Homo sapiens: one gene and its partners. The protein of the gene in region 3 purifies or fractionates together with the protein of the main gene of each other region. This does not show direct contact. Each region holds a gene or a part of one and is shown on either strand. Other genes may lie near its edges.

The links. Proteins that work in one complex are often made in the same cells at the same time.
Region 1: the proteins of TRIM6 (region 3) and ALB purify together in Homo sapiens (affinity purification with mass spectrometry, with the first as the bait; 2 studies listed by BioGRID). This does not show direct contact.
Region 2: the proteins of TRIM6 (region 3) and EIF4B purify together in Homo sapiens (affinity purification with mass spectrometry, with the first as the bait; one large-scale study listed by BioGRID). This does not show direct contact.
Region 4: the proteins of TRIM6 (region 3) and USP10 purify together in Homo sapiens (affinity purification with mass spectrometry, with the first as the bait; one large-scale study listed by BioGRID). This does not show direct contact.

Annotation. Positions count from the first base shown.
Region 1 is NC_000004.12:73,417,787-73,421,286, forward strand, and holds part of ALB (albumin preproprotein), read left to right. Parts: intron 1-301; coding exon 302-525; intron 526-1,720; coding exon 1,721-1,853; intron 1,854-2,467; coding exon 2,468-2,512; 3' UTR 2,513-2,535; intron 2,536-3,305; 3' UTR 3,306-3,500. UniProt on the Homo sapiens protein: Binds water, Ca(2+), Na(+), K(+), fatty acids, hormones, bilirubin and drugs. Its main function is the regulation of the colloidal osmotic pressure of blood. Major zinc transporter in plasma, typically binds about 80% of all plasma zinc.
Region 2 is NC_000012.12:53,012,956-53,016,455, forward strand, and holds part of EIF4B (eukaryotic translation initiation factor 4B), read left to right. Parts: intron 1-3,500. UniProt on the Homo sapiens protein: Required for the binding of mRNA to ribosomes. Functions in close association with EIF4-F and EIF4-A. Binds near the 5'-terminal cap of mRNA in presence of EIF-4F and ATP.
Region 3 is NC_000011.10:5,602,917-5,606,876, forward strand, and holds part of TRIM6 (tripartite motif-containing protein 6), read left to right. Parts: intron 1-329; coding exon 330-819; intron 820-1,617; coding exon 1,618-1,713; intron 1,714-2,420; coding exon 2,421-2,651; intron 2,652-3,960. Other genes in the region: TRIM6-TRIM34 (tripartite motif-containing 6 and tripartite motif-containing 34), read left to right, coding at 330-819, 1,618-1,713, 2,421-2,651.
Region 4 is NC_000016.10:84,773,000-84,776,499, forward strand, and holds part of USP10 (ubiquitin carboxyl-terminal hydrolase 10), read left to right. Parts: intron 1-2,160; coding exon 2,161-2,226; intron 2,227-3,500. UniProt on the Homo sapiens protein: Hydrolase that can remove conjugated ubiquitin from target proteins such as p53/TP53, RPS2/us5, RPS3/us3, RPS10/eS10, BECN1, SNX3 and CFTR.

The sequences.
Region 1 (3,500 bases), on a different chromosome or scaffold from region 3:
ATGTGTGTGTGCATGCACGTGTGTGTATGTGTGATATTGGCAGTCAAGGCCCCGAGGATGATAATTTTTTTTTTTTTTTTGAGACGGAGTCTCGCTTTGTTGTCCAGGCTGGAGTGCAGTGGTGCCATCTCGGCTCACTGCAACCTCCGCCTCCCAGGTTCAAGCCATTCTCCTGCCTCAGCCTCCCAAGTAGCTGGGACTACAGGTGCATGCCACCATGCCTGGCTAATTTTTTGTATTTTTAGTAGAAAATTTTCAGCTTCACCTCTTTTGAATTTCTGCTCTCCTGCCTGTTCTTTAGCTATCCGTGGTCCTGAACCAGTTATGTGTGTTGCATGAGAAAACGCCAGTAAGTGACAGAGTCACCAAATGCTGCACAGAATCCTTGGTGAACAGGCGACCATGCTTTTCAGCTCTGGAAGTCGATGAAACATACGTTCCCAAAGAGTTTAATGCTGAAACATTCACCTTCCATGCAGATATATGCACACTTTCTGAGAAGGAGAGACAAATCAAGAAACAAACGTGAGGAGTATTTCATTACTGCATGTGTTTGTAGTCTTGATAGCAAGAACTGTCAATTCAAGCTAGCAACTTTTTCCTGAAGTAGTGATTATATTTCTTAGAGGAAAGTATTGGAGTGTTGCCCTTATTATGCTGATAAGAGTACCCAGAATAAAATGAATAACTTTTTAAAGACAAAATCCTCTGTTATAATATTGCTAAAATTATTCAGAGTAATATTGTGGATTAAAGCCACAATAGAATAACATGTTAGGCCATATTCAGTAGAAAAAGATGAACAATTAACTGATAAATTTGTGCACATGGCAAATTAGTTAATGGGAACCATAGGAGAATTTATTTCTAGATGTAAATAATTATTTTAAGTTTGCCCTATGGTGGCCCCACACATGAGACAAACCCCCAAGATGTGACTTTTGAGAATGAGACTTGGATAAAAAACATGTAGAAATGCAAGCCCTGAAGCTCAACTCCCTATTGCTATCACAGGGGTTATAATTGCATAAAATTTAGCTATAGAAAGTTGCTGTCATCTCTTGTGGGCTGTAATCATCGTCTAGGCTTAAGAGTAATATTGCAAAACCTGTCATGCCCACACAAATCTCTCCCTGGCATTGTTGTCTTTGCAGATGTCAGTGAAAGAGAACCAGCAGCTCCCATGAGTTTGGATAGCCTTATTTTCTATAGCCTCCCCACTATTAGCTTTGAAGGGAGCAAAGTTTAAGAACCAAATATAAAGTTTCTCATCTTTATAGATGAGAAAAATTTTAAATAAAGTCCAAGATAATTAAATTTTTAAGGATCATTTTTAGCTCTTTAATAGCAATAAAACTCAATATGACATAATATGGCACTTCCAAAATCTGAATAATATATAATTGCAATGACATACTTCTTTTCAGAGATTTACTGAAAAGAAATTTGTTGACACTACATAACGTGATGAGTGGTTTATACTGATTGTTTCAGTTGGTCTTCCCACCAACTCCATGAAAGTGGATTTTATTATCCTCATCATGCAGATGAGAATATTGAGACTTATAGCGGTATGCCTGAGCCCCAAAGTACTCAGAGTTGCCTGGCTCCAAGATTTATAATCTTAAATGATGGGACTACCATCCTTACTCTCTCCATTTTTCTATACGTGAGTAATGTTTTTTCTGTTTTTTTTTTTTCTTTTTCCATTCAAACTCAGTGCACTTGTTGAGCTCGTGAAACACAAGCCCAAGGCAACAAAAGAGCAACTGAAAGCTGTTATGGATGATTTCGCAGCTTTTGTAGAGAAGTGCTGCAAGGCTGACGATAAGGAGACCTGCTTTGCCGAGGAGGTACTACAGTTCTCTTCATTTTAATATGTCCAGTATTCATTTTTGCATGTTTGGTTAGGCTAGGGCTTAGGGATTTATATATCAAAGGAGGCTTTGTACATGTGGGACAGGGATCTTATTTTACAAACAATTGTCTTACAAAATGAATAAAACAGCACTTTGTTTTTATCTCCTGCTCTATTGTGCCATACTGTTAAATGTTTATAATGCCTGTTCTGTTTCCAAATTTGTGATGCTTATGAATATTAATAGGAATATTTGTAAGGCCTGAAATATTTTGATCATGAAATCAAAACATTAATTTATTTAAACATTTACTTGAAATGTGGTGGTTTGTGATTTAGTTGATTTTATAGGCTAGTGGGAGAATTTACATTCAAATGTCTAAATCACTTAAAATTGCCCTTTATGGCCTGACAGTAACTTTTTTTTATTCATTTGGGGACAACTATGTCCGTGAGCTTCCGTCCAGAGATTATAGTAGTAAATTGTAATTAAAGGATATGATGCACGTGAAATCACTTTGCAATCATCAATAGCTTCATAAATGTTAATTTTGTATCCTAATAGTAATGCTAATATTTTCCTAACATCTGTCATGTCTTTGTGTTCAGGGTAAAAAACTTGTTGCTGCAAGTCAAGCTGCCTTAGGCTTATAACATCACATTTAAAAGCATCTCAGGTAACTATATTTTGAATTTTTTAAAAAAGTAACTATAATAGTTATTATTAAAATAGCAAAGATTGACCATTTCCAAGAGCCATATAGACCAGCACCGACCACTATTCTAAACTATTTATGTATGTAAATATTAGCTTTTAAAATTCTCAAAATAGTTGCTGAGTTGGGAACCACTATTATTTCTATTTTGTAGATGAGAAAATGAAGATAAACATCAAAGCATAGATTAAGTAATTTTCCAAAGGGTCAAAATTCAAAATTGAAACCAAAGTTTCAGTGTTGCCCATTGTCCTGTTCTGACTTATATGATGCGGTACACAGAGCCATCCAAGTAAGTGATGGCTCAGCAGTGGAATACTCTGGGAATTAGGCTGAACCACATGAAAGAGTGCTTTATAGGGCAAAAACAGTTGAATATCAGTGATTTCACATGGTTCAACCTAATAGTTCAACTCATCCTTTCCATTGGAGAATATGATGGATCTACCTTCTGTGAACTTTATAGTGAAGAATCTGCTATTACATTTCCAATTTGTCAACATGCTGAGCTTTAATAGGACTTATCTTCTTATGACAACATTTATTGGTGTGTCCCCTTGCCTAGCCCAACAGAAGAATTCAGCAGCCGTAAGTCTAGGACAGGCTTAAATTGTTTTCACTGGTGTAAATTGCAGAAAGATGATCTAAGTAATTTGGCATTTATTTTAATAGGTTTGAAAAACACATGCCATTTTACAAATAAGACTTATATTTGTCCTTTTGTTTTTCAGCCTACCATGAGAATAAGAGAAAGAAAATGAAGATCAAAAGCTTATTCATCTGTTTTTCTTTTTCGTTGGTGTAAAGCCAACACCCTGTCTAAAAAACATAAATTTCTTTAATCATTTTGCCTCTTTTCTCTGTGCTTCAATTAATAAAAAATGGAAAGAATCTAATAGAGTGGTACAGCACTGTTATTTTTCAAA
Region 2 (3,500 bases), on a different chromosome or scaffold from region 3:
GAGACTTGTGATTTGAAAAGACATTCTAAGATTTAAAAGTGCTTTTAATATTTTTTAGTCATGATATTTAATTTGTTTGGAAATTTCAAATAACGTTAAAGAAGAAACTTGTTTGTCAAAGGAGTCAAGGGGTGAGAGTTGAGAAACTGTGATCTACAAAGTTGATTTAAGCCAAATCGGACTAAAGGGCAGATTAATTCCACATTCTGCTGTTTTGGTAGAAGATACGTATATAGAACAAAGAGGAAAGGGATACCTTATTCAGATTGTTAATGTTCTTTTGTTGAACTTGACCTTATTGTACTGACCACCAGTTCTGTTTTTATCCTCCCAGTGGAAGGACAGGTTAATAATTGGATATTAGCTGATGGTACTAGATTAAGCCCCATGAGGGTAAGGATCTGTAGCTAGCATCATATTAATCCCAGACACTATTTTTGAATTAAATGATATGAAAAAGTCTAAAATAAGCCCACGCACTGTAAGTGGTTTACCTCATGTCTTACTCGTGTTCGCTTATTAAAATCTCCCATAGATCTTTGCATATGAGGCTGGGCACAGTGGCTCATGCCTGTAATCGCAGCATTTTGGGAGGCCGAGGTGGGTGGATCATTTGGGGTCAGGAGTTTGAGACCAGCCTGGCCAACATGGTGAAACCCCATCTCTACTAAAAATACAAAAATTAGCCAGGCTTGGTGGCACATGCCTGTAATCCCAGTTACTCAGGAGGCTGAGGCAGGAGAATCACTTGAACCTGGGAGGCAGAGGTTATAGTGAGCCAAGATGGCGCCACTGCACTCCAGCCTGGACAAGAGTGAGACTCCCTCTAAAAAAAAAAAAAAACCTTTGCATATGAGCTGCAGCAATAAAAGTGCTATGAGACCCAACCTCTCTGTAACCGTATTCTTTGAAAGCTGTGGAATAAGGCCAAGTGCAGTGGCTCACATCTAATCCCAGCACTTTGGAAGGCTGAGACGGGTGGACCACTTGAGGCCAGGAGTTGAAGACCAATCTGGGCAGTGTAGCAAGACCCCTGCCTCTACAAAAAATTTTAAAATTAGCTGGGCATGGTGGTGCATGCCTATAGTCCCAGCTACTCAAGAGGCTACAGTGGGAGAATTGCTTGAGCCCAAAAGGTCAAAGCTGCAGTGAGCCACGATTGCACCACTGCAAAAAAAGAAAAAAGAAAAAGCAGGCCGGGCGCGTTGGCTCACGTCTGTAATCCCAGCACTTTGGGAGGCTAATCACGAGGTCAGGAGATCAAGACCATCCTGGCTAACACTGTGAAACTAAAAAAAAAAAAAAAATTAGCCTGGCGTGGTGGCACGCGCCTGTAGTCCCAGCCACTTGGGAGGCTGAGGCAGGAGAAATTGCTTGAACCTGGGAGGCGGAGGTTGCAGTGAACTGAGATCGCGCCACTGCACTCCAGCCTGTATGACAAAGCGAGACTCCGTCTCAAAAAAAAAAAAAAAAGCGTAGGATGGATTCAAAATGTGATCTGGTTGATCATAAACAATACTTTTGGAGCTGGATTAATATTAAGTCACTTGAGAGATACAGAAAATACCATGTTCGTGGTCAACTTTGATTATTTTAGCCGGGTTCATCTGGTTTGCACATTGAGACCGTAATACTTCAGGTTCTAATTGTGTCCAGAAGGCTATGTGTTAACATTCATAGCAAACTGGTTACCTTTATTTCCTGAAAGTTAAATTTTGAAAGAAAGGGATACCAAGTGAGAAAGCAACCTTCAGTTAAACAAAGGGGTACATCAAGTTTGATATTCTTGGATTAAAAATCAGGTGACAATTGGAACATGGAGGAGAAATTCATGATTATAAAAACCATGAAGCCAATCTTTTTTACAACAAAGCTGCTTGTTTTTTTCTTAATCATGTAGTGGCTGCTATCAGGCCAGTTCTGGAACTTCACTGAGTCCCTCTGCTCTTCTGAATCAGCTCTTGATTGGTGGTGACTTCTCGGAAGTTCTGAGGACCACAAAGAAAGAGCAGTGTCAGTTCACTAAGTTGAGCCATTTGGAGATTACTAAATATTCCATAACTGTGGGAAACACTTAAATGTGTTGGTTATTAGGGTTTTCGTGTGTTTTCCTTTTAGCATTACATCCTCATATGCAGTGTTGTTATAGTAGAGGAGGACATTTTTTCTAGAGGGCAGAGAGATCTAGGGAATATGACTGTTAACATTTGAACACTTTCAAATAGCAGTACGTTTTACTGTGGTTTTGATAACCTGACATAGAATAAGCTGCTGAGATGCAAGGATACCTTGGTATATAGAAAGAGCCTTAGACTTCGTATGAAAAAAACTTAGGTTTTATCTTCAGCCTAGCCATCTAATGTCTCTGTAACTTTACAGACATCTGGTGTTTCACTTAACCTCTCTGAGACTTAGTTTCCTTTTCTGTAAATTGATAGTTGTGGCCAGGCACCATGGCTCATACCTGTAATCCCAGCATTTTGGGAGGCTGAGGCAGGAGGATCACTTGAGCCTGGGATCCTCCAGGATACTTGAGACCAGCCTGGGCAACATAGGGAATTAAAAAACTTTTTAAAAATCAGCTGGGCGTGGTAGTGTGCCTCTGTGGTCCCAGCTATTGAGGAGGCTGTGGGAGGATCACATGAGCATGGGAGGGTTGAGGCTTCAGATAGCCGTGGCCACACCACTGCACTACAGCCTGGACAACAGAGCAAGACCCTGTCTCAAAAAAAAAAAATGGGGCCGGGTGTGGCGGTTCACACCGTAATCCCAGCACTTTCGGAGGCCGAGGCAGGAGGATCACCTGAGGTTAGGAGTTCAAGACCAGCCTGGCCAACATGGTGAAACCCCGTCTCTACTAAAAACACAAAAAATTAGCTGGGCATGGTGGCGGGTGCCTGTAATCCCAAGTATTCGGGAGGCTGAGGCAGGAGAATTGCTTGAACCCAGGAGGCAGGGGTTGCAGTGAGCCGAGATGGCACCATTGCACTCCAGCCTGGACAACAAGAGCAAGACTCTGTCTCAAAAAAAAAAAAAAAAAGACAGTTGTGATTCCTTCCCTATATGGTTTGTTTACAAGTGTCAAAACAGTCTTCAAAACTGCCATACTGAATATGTTATGTGAGATACGAATTTTTATTGATCTTTTTTATCCAAAGAGCAGTGAAAGTAGTAACTGAATAGAAGTAGTTACAAAATTAAAGATCTCAAATGATAAGTGAATATAGTAGAAAATAAAAGGTTGCCCCCACACTCCAAACATACTCTCCAGGGTGTATCTCAAACACTCAGACCCTTTTCCGTACGTAAACATGTGTTTACACATAATAGGTATTCTGCAACTTTTAAATTTCTTATTTATGTCTGCATAGTACCCCTTCATGGAAATGCCATAATTTAACCATTTGAGGAGCGTCCATGTTATTTCTTTCTAAATAATGTTTTACAATATTGCATTGTACAACTCTGTAAATACCTGAGTATTGGTGAATAATCTTTCT
Region 3 (3,960 bases):
GCATTCCAGCCTGGGTGACAGAGTGAGTCTCCATCTCAAAAAAGAAAAAAAAGAAAAGATCACACAGACAGTGACTCACACAGGCCCCTCCTTTCCAGGGCCTCAGTTTGTCTCTATTCAATAGGAGCAAGAGGAAATTATCACTGCTTTAATATGGGGAGAAATTGGTGCCTTGTATGAGCCGGGATAAAGAACGTATTGGATATGAGAATGAGAAGCCCTTGTTACCCCAGGTGTCTGACCTCTTTATCCAGGACTGGGCAGTCAGTATTCCCTTATTCTCCCTCCTTTCTTACCCTGATCCTTTTTTTGTTTGTTCATCTACCTAGGATTCTACAGGCAGGAAACATCTTAGAAATCAGGGTTGGGCAGGCAGGAGCCAGGAGAGTAGCTACAATGACTTCACCAGTACTGGTGGACATACGAGAAGAGGTGACCTGCCCTATCTGCCTGGAGCTCCTAACAGAACCCCTGAGCATAGACTGTGGCCACAGCTTCTGCCAAGCCTGCATCACACCAAATGGCAGGGAATCAGTGATTGGTCAAGAAGGGGAAAGAAGCTGCCCTGTGTGCCAGACCAGCTACCAGCCAGGGAACCTGCGGCCTAATCGGCATCTGGCCAACATAGTGAGGCGGCTCAGAGAGGTAGTGTTGGGCCCTGGGAAGCAGCTGAAAGCAGTTCTTTGTGCAGACCATGGAGAAAAACTGCAGCTCTTCTGTCAGGAGGATGGGAAGGTCATTTGCTGGCTTTGTGAGCGGTCTCAGGAGCACCGTGGTCACCACACGTTCCTCGTGGAGGAGGTTGCCCAGGAGTACCAGGTGAGACCCCAGGATGGAATGGGAGACAGAGAAACAGGGTCTTTGGCAGGTTTTAACGTTTTATCATGCTCTGATCTAATCTCTTTGTAGTCTTTATTTACCTAGAGAATGAACCTGGAAACTGCCTCCCTGATTAAGAATAGATTCTTTATCATTTACTTGCTATTCCAGATTGAGTAGATAGAGCTGCTTGGGGTAAAAGGGGTACTTGGTTGATTGAGTGTGGAGATATGTTGGCAGGGTAGGTAAAGGAATTTATTTACTCATGTATTTATTTTGAGAAGGCGTCTCGCTCTGTCGCCCAGGTTGGAGTGCAGTGGTGCGATCCCGGCTCACTGCAACCTCCGCCTCCCGGGTTCAAGCAGTTCTCGTGCCTGGCCTCCCAAGTAGCTAGGACTGTAGGTGTGCACCACCATGCCCAGCTAATTGTGTGTGTGTGTGCGTGTGTGTGTGTGTTTAGTAGAGATGGGGTTTTGCCATGTTGCCCAGGCTGATCTCAAACTCCTGAGCTCAGGCAATCCACCCGCCTCAGCCTCCCAAAGTGCTGGGATTACAGGCGTGAGCCACAGGTGCTTTGTGGTCAGGCACCTTCCCAAGGGGGATGGAGAATCAGCCTATCCCTGTTGGTTTTCATCCCATGTATATATATAAAAGATTTGTTGGCCCTCTCAAGTTTTCATCCTAGGTTAGGACAGGCTTCTTTTGAGGTTAGCAGAATCTCTGTCCCATTCATTCTATGTCTGGGTACTGAGTCAACTGAAGGCTTGATCCTGCTTGACCTGATTTGTTTTCTTCAAGGAGAAGTTTCAGGAGTCTCTAAAGAAGCTGAAGAACGAGGAGCAGGAAGCTGAGAAGCTAACAGCTTTTATCAGAGAGAAGAAAACATCCTGGAAGGCAAGGGAGACTTTTTCTGAAGATGTCCTGGGGCAGGAATCATGGCAGGTCATAGGAGCTGAGGGCAAAGGAGTCCTTGTCCTGTCTGTCCTCTGATGCCATGACTAGAAGAGCTTCCCTTTGCCTGGTCCTCCACTATATTCCTTCCAAACAGGGGGAGGAGAGGAGGTAAATAGCAAATATATCAAAACTGAACCTAGGAGACAATCACATAGCAGAGGAACCATGGCTAGGGGTCGCCCCAATTCATAATTCTGGGTCTTGCTCTACAGTTTCAGTCTCTTTGGCTTTTCCCTTGCATTCAGAGTACAAATGCAAGGGAAAATGCAGGTAAGGCTTGTGAAGAAGCCCAGATCTGAGACAGGTTAGTCACAGGCCAGTGATTTCCACCTCAGTACTCGAAATTGGAAGAGGAGGCTGATGCAGAGGTGAGGGAGGCTTCCTGGAATCTAAACGTCACCCAGGAATCACAGTTGATGTCTAGATGGCCTAGATAAAGCAGCCCGGGGCCAATGGTCTGGGCAGAGCTGAAGGGAGAAAAGAAGGAAAGAACAGGCTACAAAGGCTTTCTCCTGCAGCATTTACCCTCCCTCTCCCTGGGAGGCTTGGCCCAGGAAAGCAGTCCTGAGCCCAACTTCCCCGCTTTTAATAGAGGAGACCCTCAGTGTGACCGACTAGCAGCCTCTTTTTCTTCCCTGTTCCTGAAGAATCAGATGGAGCCTGAGAGATGCAGGATCCAGACAGAGTTTAATCAGCTGCGAAATATCCTAGACAGAGTGGAGCAACGGGAGCTGAAAAAGCTGGAACAGGAAGAGAAGAAGGGGCTACGAATTATAGAAGAGGCTGAGAATGATCTGGTCCACCAGACCCAGTCGCTGCGAGAGCTCATCTCGGATCTGGAGCGTCGATGTCAGGGGTCAACAATGGAGCTGCTGCAGGTAAGGCTTGTGAAGGAGCCCAGATCTGAGAGTCAAGGAAAAGAGAAACTAACTTTCCTTCCTTTCTGGGACATCAGACTACCATCGTTGCAGGGACAAGAGAAAACATTCCTTTGGCGCTATAGTGCCTATCCCCTATTAAACTGTTTAGAGGTATGGAGTAAAGCGTAAGATAATTCAGAGTACAAATGCAAGGGAAAGTCCCATTTTTATTTATAAAGGGTTGTCTAAAAGTTTATTTGATGCTGTGGAGAAGTTCTGTTGTATCCAGTGATGTTGTTCTTTCTTTCTCAGTCTTGGCACTATTTACATTTCTGGCTGGATAATTCTTTGCTGCGTGGGGTTCTCCTGTACATTGTAGGATGCTTAGCAGCGTCTCTGGCCTCTGCTCACTAGATGTCAGCAGCACCACCCCAGATGTGACAACCCCAAATTTCTTCAGACATTGCCACGATAGCCCCAGGGTGAACACAGTGCTCTCCCAGTTGAGAACCACTGTTCATTAGGCACCTCTCGTCTCTGATGCTGTGTTGGGAATTTGCCAAGTGCTTCTTACCCAGCTTAGTCACAGGCACACTTACGCCAAGCTAAATTCTTAGAGATGATGTATTACCAGCCCTTCTTTGTTTTCACTCTCTTCTCTAGAGCAGAATCATTTAACATACTGTAGCAATTGATATTTGAACTGGTTTTGGGGGTCTGGGCTCTGGTCTGTATGTGTGTAGGTCGCAGATTACAAGGTATCAAGCCTAGAGAGATTTGATGGAGGGACTTGAACTGAGGTTGAAATTCTAGCAGCTATTTTCTGCATAGAATGAATAGTGTGGTTGTGAATTTGAGGCATGATGTAGCTTGTGATATTCTGTAACCTTCAGAGTGTAAGATATTCTTTATATTTTGTTTGTCTTCGTGCTTTCCTCTTGCTCCTTCTTTCTTGGTGGAATAATTGTTTATTTACATATTCTTGGGTCTTAGTATTAGAGCCATGGGTAGCTACTTTCTGCCTGTTACAGCTTTTTCTCATTCACTGCTTCCTGCTTTGCATCTTCATTTTATTCTTCTTGCCTTTTTGTCCTCATCATTGATATTATTACCCTGATACTTTCTCCTTCACCTTTTGTTCTGGCTCCTCAACAGTCCTCAAACTGTAAATATTTTTTAAATGCAAATGAATCGTCAATTCATATTGCTAGTTTAGACACTTCCACATTCATTAGTATGACTGCCCCACGGACATTTAAACTTGAGTAGTCTTTTCTAAAAATAAACTTTCTGGAATTTTCCCATCACAGACATTGTTCTTTCTCTT
Region 4 (3,500 bases), on a different chromosome or scaffold from region 3:
CGAGTATTAACAGCTGTGTTGACTAGCCCAGTTAAGTGGTTTTTAGTGAAGTAAGAATGATTTCTCATAGGCAGTGAGAGTCCCTTCTAACCTCTAGTTGTGGTGGCGCACAAATAAGACGTGGCACTTACCAGCCTCAAGTCTCTGTCAGGTCACGGGCTCGGCACTTTTTGAAAGCAATTTTAAAGAGCCCCAGGTTAAAGGCATCTTGCTAAAAGCACAGCTTCAAGAAGACTTTTCTTGAAAGCTTTAGAATTTGTGAAAACGTATAGTACAACACTGAGGCTTGATTGGGACTGTGATTAGCTAGAGAGGATTCTCAGAATATCGAGGTGTTTGGGAAGCAGAAAAGAGGACACTGGGCCTCACTCCTGGGTCCTGCAGAGGAACAAACCTGAACCGAGAGTCCTCTTCTCTCCGTCCCCTGGCACAGCAACCCCACCTCATACCTCCTTCCATATAGATGACCCAGGAACTGTGGGCATGGCTGGCTTCTAGCCGGCTCCCTGTCTACCCTAGGGGCGCCCTATACCTTCCCGTGAAGACTCAGACACTGTCTCTCCCAGGCCTGCACACAAGAGCTGTGCTTTCTGCTGACGGGCTTGGCTGCTGTGCCGGGTTTAGTGTCCGTTGCTCCTCTCACACTTCTAGCTGCCTTATCACTCATCAGCCGATTGCTTTTTAATCCCATTTGAGGACCAGCAAGAGGAAGAAAGATGCCAGTGAGAATCATGTAACAGATCCTCCTCCCCATTTTATTCTATCCATCGGGAAACCTGGAATGCCGGCTAAGTCAAAGAAGGCATCCTCGGCCTCTGCTCCTGCATCTTCACTCGCCTCCAGATCAGCTGTCTGAGCTGACTTGGATGTTTTGCTACAGTGATTTTATTTTTATATCTTTTCTTGCTTGCTGTATTTTTATATCCGCTGCCACCTCCAATACATTATCAAAATATGACATAAATGGGGGCTGGGCGCAGTGGCTCACACCTGTAATCCCAGCACTTTGGGAGGCCGAGGCAGGCAGATCACCTGAGGTCAGGAGTTCGAGACCAGCCTGACCAACGTGGTGAAACCCCAACTCTTCTAAAAACACAAAAATTAGCCTAGCATGGTGGTGGGTGCCTGTAATCCTAGCTACTTGGGAGGCTGAGGCAGGAGAATCGCTTGAACCTGGGAAGCAGAGGTTGCTGAGATCATGCCACTGCACTCCAGCCTGGGCAACAGAGCAAGACTCCATCTCAAAAAAATAAATAAATAACATAAATGGGGGACAAGAGGACCTCACTTGGGTCATGGGTCAGAAGTACAGATGGCTGCCTCGAACAGCATGCCTCCGACGGACTCTTGTGTCGGTGTAAGTGGTACTTCTGCGCACAGTAAGAGCAGGGAGTTCCCGCCTCGTAGCAGCTGGTAGACTGGTTCCTATTTGGAGAAATCATGTTACTGTTCTGTAACTGAAGTTTTGTTTTGTTTTTTTTTTGTTTGTTTGTTTTTTTCTTGCTCTGTCACCCAGGCTGGAGTGCAGTGGCGCGATCTCGGCTCGCTGCAACCTCTGCCTCCCGGGTTCAAGTGATTCTCCTGCCTCAGCCTCCCGAGTAGCTGAGACTACAGCCGCGTGCCACCACGCCCGGGTAATTTTTTGTATTTTTAATAGAGACGTGGTTTCACTGTATTAGCCAGGATGGTCTCGATCTCCTGACCTCGTGATCGCCCGTCTCAGCCTCCCAAAGTGCTGGGATTACAGGCGTGAGCCACCGTGCCTGGCCTGTAATTGAAGTTTTATGATCTGACGCATATGTAAAATTTTAATTCTTGCCTTGGATTTTTCACAACTGTTTTTGTTTTTAAGTCAGCAGCTTTTTTCTTTTCCATTTTGTAGAGCACCTGTTTTTAAGGGGCCTCCCACAGGAGCATCACAGCCTCGGCCGTTGCTCCTGTTTCTTTAGTGAGCTGGCTGCACATTTTGTGTCCTATTACGTCACATGGCTCATTTCCTTCATGAGTCAATTTTTGTGCAACTGAAGGGATAGAGTGTTGTTTTGTTCCTGGTCTGACAGGCAGTTTACTTGCTGGGGAGAATGTTGTTAGCCATTTTCTGCTGCTGTTACCCTGAACCTTTCTAAAAGTGCTTCAAGCCATTGATATTTTGTTTTCCAGAACTGCTTTCTCCAGGGGTTAAAAATAAGAATTTTAAATGCCACCGAACCTATCGGCTCTTTGCAGGTGAGTAAATTTGTACGACATTACTTCTTCATTAAAACACTGATGAAGGGGTTTACAGCTGGGCACAGGTTTGCTGCAACTTAGCATAGCGACCAGATGCTGTACTCAGGTATCCCTGTGGCCTTGTGAGTCGGGGAGTCACGTGAGAGTTTTACCTGAAACTCTGCGTAGATGACGGATTATCATCTTGGCCCTGAGGACAGATAACAGAAGACCTTGCTCAAAGCGAACATTTCTGTCTTTGAGTCAGAGGAGGGAGTTTCAGGCTCCCAGGCTGGCTGTTTGAGAATGTGACCTCTCCCGGCTGTGCTTGTGGCACCTGTGGGTGACAGTGCTGTGGAGTTTCCACGACACCTGGTCACCCAGCCAGGTTGGGTGAGCGCGCCCCCAGCCGGTGATCCCTGCGTCCTCCCCCACAGGTATTGTTAGGGCTGCTTGAGAGGGTGGGCCCGATTACACAAGCTCCTCGGCTGCCAGGCCCTCAGTCAGTCATGAGAAATCTCCCAACAGGGTGAATGGCACCCCCTGTTCCCTCATGGGTGGACCTTGAGACCTCTTCTGTCTCCTGGCTTAGGCTCCCTGCAGTATCATTTTTTCTGCCACATCATCTTCCCTTTCCTTTCTGCCTTCCCTTTTATCCTTCTTTCTCTTTTATAGCGTCATCTTTTATGCCTCTGAGTCTTTACCTCTTTGGATTGTTGCTGTTTGCCGCACTTTTGTTTGCTTCCCAGGCTGTTTTTACTACATGTTTCTAGCTTCTGTGTCTTCCCTCCTCTGGTGTGGCCTTTGGTGAACCTGTTTGTATCGTAACATAACACTGCCATTTATTGACCTTCACACATGTATTGAACCTCTTCCCAAGATATTCTTTCATTTCCTTACATGTGTCCTAGGAGATGGGAGGTGGGATCCCTGTTTTATAAAAGAATAAACCAGAACTCAAGGAAGAAAACTCACCACTCTGGCCTGCAGTGGCAGAGCAGGGCTTCAAGCTCCTGTCCACCTCAGCTCACGCCCGATGTTTTAGGAAGTTTGGCGAGTGGGTGAGGGCCCAGGGATGGGGGCCCAGGGGTGAGGGCCTAGCGGTGGGGGCCCAGGGGTGAGGGCCCAGTGGGTGAGGCCCAGAGCCACACTGCAAGGTGCCAGGCTTCCCTCTCTTCCTCTCACTATTCATTGTTCCTTTTGACTCTCTTCTTTTCTCCCCCCGATCACAATTCCTCCTCAACTTGCTGGGCCTCAGATGGGACGGCCATGGGCACCACGCGCTTGTGGGT